Homo sapiens: one gene and its partner. The protein of the gene in region 1 interacts with the protein of each later gene in a pairwise test. Each region holds a gene or a part of one and is shown in the gene's direction. Other genes may lie near its edges.

Evidence for each region.
Region 2: the proteins of WIF1 (region 1) and CRADD interact in a two-hybrid assay, tested with the Homo sapiens proteins (one large-scale study listed by BioGRID and IntAct).

The regions. Positions count from the first base shown.
Region 1 is NC_000012.12:65,079,674-65,083,460, reverse strand, and holds part of WIF1 (wnt inhibitory factor 1 precursor), read left to right. Parts: intron 1-3,787. UniProt on the Homo sapiens protein: Binds to WNT proteins and inhibits their activities. May be involved in mesoderm segmentation.
Region 2 is NC_000012.12:93,680,266-93,684,052, forward strand, and holds part of CRADD (death domain-containing protein CRADD), read left to right. Parts: intron 1-3,787. UniProt on the Homo sapiens protein: Adapter protein that associates with PIDD1 and the caspase CASP2 to form the PIDDosome, a complex that activates CASP2 and triggers apoptosis.

The DNA.
Region 1 (3,787 bases):
AAGAGTGTCACAGAGTCCAAAGATAATGAGCTTTGAGTTTGAAGGATGAAATTTTGCAGAGGTAACAAGAAGAATTCTGAGGAAGAATGTGAGATCTGGCAATTTTTGCTCTAGATATTCAGATTATTTTAATCATTGGGCATGCTTATTCGTTTTGTTTGGGTCTTTAACATTGAACTATTTTCCTTTCTTGCTTATTTTAGATTTTTTCTGGCCCTTCACTTACAGCGTACGATCTATTTTACATCTCTTTAGTACCTCTCATACCCAGTGAATCTGCTAATCTGAATTCACAGTGAATCTGCGAATCTGAATTCACTTGTATGCTGTAACAATAATAGGCTGTTGTGAGAATTAAATAAACAGTAACTGCAGTATAATAAACATTCAACAAAAATTATTTGAAAATTTTCAAACCTTACAGCTTTTGTGTGTTTTGTATCTATAAATGCCTGAAACCTTCTTTAGAACAAAGATGATAACTTTATTGTTTTAATGTTCTTCCATGAGCACTTAGGTCAGCATCATGATATATGGGTTAAAAGAGGTTTGAAGTCCTTGGTTTTCTGAAAGATCTTTGATTCTTAACTCAGAGGCTCCTACAATTATTGTGCTTATTAGATTAAGTACACACCATAAACACAGAACTTCAAAGGTAGAAGAGAAATACTGGATTCTCTTCATTCCTCTCAATAAGGGGTTAATGCAATTCTCTGCTTCCTTTCTCTATGTCTACCCTAAAAGGAGTGCCAGAACAAAGGCCTTATGAGTTGTCCCATTTTGCTGTTTAAATGATGTCTTCATCTCATCTGGAAGGAACAATCCTAATATTCAGCCAAGTCCATTGGAAGCAAGTTAAATGACCTCCAGCACTCCTCTCTTGATAATATTTGGGTGTCTTTTATGCTTCTCCATGAAAAGAAAATTTACTGCATGGCAAACCATGCCAGTGAATTATTCTCCTGAATAGACCCATTCTTTGTTTGAATACAAAGCAACCTTTTCATGTGTTTCCCAAATAATTACTCTGTTTGCCTTTACCTGAGTTTCCTCTAGTGTCATTTAATGGAACAAAATGTACTTTTTCCTAATAGAGGTTTTAGACTCTCCAGTATACCATTTCTCTATTACTGTTCATGCTCTGAGTTCCTTTTATCTAAATAATAAATCTACAATTTGTGGAAATTGTTCCCAAACTTTAAAGCTAGTTCTCTGTTCTCTTTGGCATAGAATTTAGATTTTATTTGCTCTCAAATAAGTTTTTCCAATGGGGAGATTTGGGTCTAAGAATATTTATTATAAATAAAGTAAAAACAGAAAGTCCTGTCTAGAAGTTAGAGTATGGCGTAAATATATTGTTCATCAGCCATTTCTTGTGGCTTTTAATTTAAGCCCTTAGGTTAAATGAAGGATATATTTACTCTGTAGTTCATAATACTATATTTGTGGAAATATTTTCACAGTATTGATGGTTTTAGATTTCTTTACAATGGCAAAGTAAAACTTTGAAAGAAGTTAGTGTCAACATCAGAGATAAAAGGTTAGTCAATTTCTAAATGGTTTTCAAGTTAAAATTTTTCTTTTTTCTTTTCTTTTTTTTTTATCTTAAAACTTCCCAGTGTGAAGTTAGAATTTTTAAAGAGGCAATGAAAACCACAGACAAAATCTTTTTTAAAGAAATGTACCAAGTATCCAGGAAATTACATGTTTCAGAGATTCATGCACCATTAGTTATCATCTTCAGCAAGAAAGAAAACGATTTACTCTGGTAACTGCCTTTTGCTGATAAGATCCAAGAAAGAAACCAGTTCCTGCCTTATGAACAGTCTTATTAGAATAAGACAAATGTTTACTGATTCTCAAAGAAATAAAAGGGACACTTTTGTGTAAAGTGTGTTATTGATTAGATCAGAGTATTGGGTGTCCAGAGAAATCTATTAAGCCTAGCTGCATCATGTGAAGCAGTCGTGCCACTGCTCATTATCAACTCTCTGATGCTAAGTATAACAGATTCCATGCTTCTCAGTCTACCTTCTGTGGTCATACCTGAAGGCTCTGTGAAGTTATGTTTCTGGCCTCCGAATGGAATTTTTTCAGTTCCATATTCTTTGAACATCATCAAAACTTTTTGGAAGAGGCGTTCAGAAGCTATTTTATGCAAATTGCTGCACTTTCAAGGAGACATGGAAGAGATTTAAATAAAATTGTTGTTTAAACACAGCCACGTTAAATAGATGTTCAAGAAGAATATTTTATCTATGATCAGAGAATTATGGAAAAAGAATCATCAGCCACGGAACTGAAAGGAGGGTACATGATTAATGCTTTTTAAAAAAAATACATAAATGCACTTATTTCATGAAAAGATATAAATTCACATATAGAAAATCTGAAAAAGAGAGAAAAGAAAAAAAATCACCATCAATTCTACACAATCATTGTTTTAATCTTGGTGTCTAGTTTTTCTTATTAACTAAAAGTTTATTTTTTAAATTAAATTATATTTGTTAAAATTATTGTAGTTTTACAAATGTAATTTTTAAATATATCACACATAGAAAGGTATATTTAATTTATAATGTGACAAAGCTCAAAGATATAATTATGGGGTAGCAAATGATAACTTATATGGTATTTGACCTTTTAATTTCAAAGTTTTTTGCATTCTATCCATTCATTTCTTTTCCATCATTATATGTACTGTTAAGTCTTTAGAATGTTTTGGCACATGGTGTGCATTACACCCAAGTTTATTGTGTGATTGTTGTTACTGTACTTAGTAATAGAAATAATTCAAATGTTATTCATTATAAGGGCATCTATCACTAAATCCTTTCATAGTGCCAAATAAAATACGTTTTAGAACAGTATGTTAAATGATACATATTATCTAGTAAAATGTAGAGGGAAGTGCAGGTGGTAGAAGTCATTTAAAACACCTGGATTCATGAAAACAAATCCACTTTTAATAGTCATTGGTTTTCCTGCAGGGACAGAAATACTGTTCTCTCTTTCAAAGGAATTCATTCCAAATTGAATTACCTTTCCTGACAACACTCCTTTCATCAGACTTCTTATAAACCTCTGCCTTCCCTTAAACAGGGTAAGAATTACCTGCCTTATGACCCTTTATTCTCAGGGCCATCCTAGTGAATCAATTTTATAAATTAACTTAAACAATGTTGTTACCCACCTAGGGAACTGTTCACAGTGGTCTTTTGGAAACTTGACCACAACTCACAGGAGGGGATGCAGTGGGAATTTGGTCCATGAAGGTTATCCTTTTGGCTTAGTGAAACCAGGAAGTGTTTCTCAATTAACTTCAAGTATGGACAAGTTCCCACAGCATCTGAGACTACCCCTTGGCATTATTATCCTCATGTGAAGTCCTTAATGCCTGCTGCATGTGATACTGTGATTTAAAGCAGCAAATTGTTTGAATGTCTACCATGTATCTCTTAATATCTTTCATGTTGTAAAATAAATTTTATATTGCTTGTAGGGTCATATTCTTTTGCAACCTCCTTCTAGCCCATGTTAATGTAATTTCTTTAATTAATAGATAGAATGCAAAAATTAATATAATTAATTACATTGAATTAATGTAGTTCTGGGTGTGGAACTGAATGGATAGAATGCAAAAAGTTAATTAATTAATTTAATTCATTACATTAAATTAATGTAATTCTGGATGTCTCTACAGGTAACTGCAGAACCACTCAACTTGCCTAACTCTCATGTTAGCATTGGTGCTATTTATTGATTGTTCTTTATTTCTAAGCAAGAA
Region 2 (3,787 bases), about 29 Mb from region 1:
GGGTTTCTGATAAGAGTGATAGAACTATTCCGGTTCAGTGGGCCCCAGACTTCGTGGTTGCTATTTTTTAAATACTGGTTAAAAAAAATGAATACTGATAATAAGACCACTTTTACTATTTTTGCTCCATGGACCTCATATTTTGACATATGTCTGAATACCTGATCAGCATGACATAGCCAGCTAACTTTAGGAAGACCTGGTAAGATCCCAGTGGAAAAAGCAAAAGTATTTTCATTCCTAGTCTGGGCTCGTTACAGTTAAATGTATCTTTAGGCTTTTTGAAATATTAGACATAGCTGGCTTTTGAGGACCACTGGAATTCACTGCTTGGATTGTCCTTACAAAATTAAATACTCCACATGTCTGAACAAAATGTATCTAGATGTTTTTATGACTTTATTGAAAGCAGAATAGATAACATAGAGTTGGAGAAATGTTAAAAAATTATTGGTGTTTTCCTGATATTTGACTTAGAGGTTTCTGCTGGCATCATATAGTTGGAAACAACAAAACAGGTGAACTGAAAGCCTTTCACTATCAAAATACTGAATTTAATTTTATGGTCATTTTGGGTGATACAGATCATGCTGTTGTATGTCATTCGTAGAGGTATAATACCATTTTTTTTTTTTTGAGACGGAGTTTCACTCTTGTTGCCCAGGCTGGAGTGCAATGGCGCGATCTCGGCTCTCTGCAACCTCTGCCTCCCGGGTTTAAGCAATTCTTCTGCCTCAGCCTCCCGAGTAGCTGGGATTACAGGCATGTGCCACCATGCTCGGCTAATTTTGTATTTTTAGTAGAGATGGGGTTTCTCCATGTTGGTCAGGCTGGTCTTAAACTCCCGACCTCAGGTGATCCGCCCACCTCGGCCTCCCAAAGTGCTGGGATTACAGGCGTGAGCCACCATGCTCGGCCATAACCCCATTATTTCTTCAGATTCATTCAGAGAGTTAGAAAGAATTAAGGCATTTTTTACAAAATGATGAGAGTTACAGAGAAGCTGAGGAAAAATAGCTTTTTAAAAAAGCAAACAGAATGAAGCAGTACATAATGGGAAAAAAATTGAGCATATCTGTGTAGAAGTTTAGAAAAATAAGGTTTTTCTCAAGATTTGTTAATTCTGTAGAAGGTTGGCTCTGGAACAAATTCGTACAGTCATCTTAATTGTTTTACTTTTTACTGAGTAACACTGCTATTGAAAAAAACATTCTGAAGTGAGGGTTTGATTTATATATGTCTTTGAATACCTTCCACGGTGACAATCACATAAACTCTTTTAAAAAAGACTTGTATTTATTAAATATTGACTATTTTAAATAATATTACAAAATATAAGTAAGATATGGAGAATAATGGTACAGCGAACACCCGTCTCCTCATCACTCAGTTTAAGAAAAATAATATTACGATTGCCTTTAAAAACCCCGGGCACTCCTTCCCAATCTTGTCTCATTCCCAACCCCCACGCAGTGAAAAGCCCTGAATTGGGGGTTTATCATTCATTCACTTCTTCACTTTATAGTTTCCTATCTCCTAAAAATCACTTTTAAAATCTTCATATGTTTTTGAAAATCCTGTATACCGTAAGTTCTAGAGGTGTGTGTGTGTGTATATGTATATATGTATATAGAGAGAGATATATATGTTTTTTGTGTGTGTGGGAAGGAAAGGGTGGAAGTAATGGAAGAAATTATGCATTTAAACTTGATAGTTAACACCTTCTCTTGTTTCAGAACTTAAAATATTTTTTACATGTTTAAAGTAATTTAATTGGTGGCAATATTTTAATTCTAAAATTAAATTGGGATTTACTGAATTGGAAACCTAGGTTTTGTTATTTTGTAAATCCTGGGAAGAGTATCAGAGTTGAAATCCCTTCAATTTAACGTCCCTATAAAAAAGAAATCCAGAACCTACTGCCTAAGACCTCGGTGCTTCTCCAGTGTTGTAATTGAGTAATTTTAGTAAGATTTAAAATAGTCCACTTAAATTTTTGTAAAGATATCTTTGAGTTTTGAGGATCTAGACTATAGGAGAATGTGTGTACACATTAACCTCTTAATGTATGTACACATTAAACTCTTCCTACCTTTTCCTCATTTTGATCATACTTATTAATTAATTTGTATGGATTCAGTAGTCTCTTGGGAGGCCTTGAGAACAAATGGGAAGGAATGGCCTTCTTTTTTAGCCAAGACGTTGATCCTTCTCTAAGAATGAACTGATTTTATCTTATTAAGGTTTTCTTGTGTTGGTCTTCCCAGAGATGCTTGGTTTCCCCTTTATTGGTTTGTTGTTTTAATTTTCGTTGTTTCACTTGTAAATTTTGAGCTGTCTCAGAGGCTTTATTTTGGTGATTGTTCCTGGTTAGTTGCTTTTTACTTATGTGCTGGATGTAATTTGTTTAGAGAATTGAGCTGTATCTTGTTCTTCTCTACTCTTCTGAACGCCACCCCCATCAAATCTCAAAACATACAAAAACACCCTAAACCTTTTGATTCTCTCAGAATCTGCCTCTGTGACTAGTCTCCCAATCTCTGTTAGGAAAAAAAAAAAGGTTTAAGTTGTTAAAGTTGTTAATGGATCATTGGTTTTGTGTTTTTCTCACCCTGTAAGGACTCTTACCTTTTAAAAGAGGAATTCTGGTGATAAAATGACTTAATCCACCTTGGCACCGTGGAGAGAACACTTCATGGTTTGTCTCTCTGGCCAAGGTCACATACTAGACATTAGATCAGCTGGAAATCCTCTCTGGGCTCCTGTCAGGTCATTTAGGAGATAGGGACAGTGCCGTGTCTGGGTGAAGGCAGCCTGTGCCTGCCTGCCTGGCTTCTCACTGCTCATGGGGCCTGTCGGCACTGACAGGCTCCCTCCAGTGCCTGAGCTAATCTGGATCTGGAAAGGAGGTTGATGGCAGCCCAGCCTCCCCATCTGGTGGGACTCAGCGTAAATCACGGTGGGAGTGACTCCTGGGCCACAGGACCCCCTCCCTGTTCCACTGTGTTGGCCCTGGCTGTGGGTCTGGGTGTCTGCCATGATTCTCTGCCTTTTGCCCCAGTCTTCCTTTAAGCTTGGGAGTGTTTTTGTTTTTCTCTCCTCCGTTGGTTTGATTCATGCTTTATGTATTCTTAGCCATGGCGAGAGTGAAGAACAGAGCTCTGGGAACACAGCTCGGTGCCTCCGGCATCAGCATTGGATGTCTCAACTCTTGAGCCTGTTGGAATGGCTGTCCCTAAGCTGACACTTGCTTCAACCTTCTCTGGGCTTGATCTTGTCCTCCCCATAGACTCTGTGCCCTGGACTCCCTGGCTGCTCTTACAACAGCAGTGCGCAGGACTGGCTAGTCCATTTCCCCTCTACCTGTGGGCTCAAGGGCTCTGCCTGCCCCTTGTGGCGCCAGCCTTGAGTGACAACACAGAACCACACCTGCCGCCCTCCTGAGATACATTCTAGCTCTGAGTTGCATACTTGGATGCATCTAAAGTCACTGAGCTCTTAATGGCAGATATTTTAGATATTGTGATGGGTTTATTAGAGAGGTTTCTAGCTTGGGATTCTTTTCATAGGTTCCTCCAATCATACCACGTAATTGACCTTGCTCTGCATGTAAGTTCAGTGTTGGTCTCAGTGTATCTAGCTTGCAGTCTATCCATGTGCTTCCACTGTGACTGAGTAGTGTTTGCCTAGTGGCGTCCTGTGTGCTAGAGTGAGAACAGTGGGTCAGTATCCATAGCAAGACCCTTCCCTCGGTAAAGGGAGAGTCTGCAGAGGGCCCAGGTTTCTG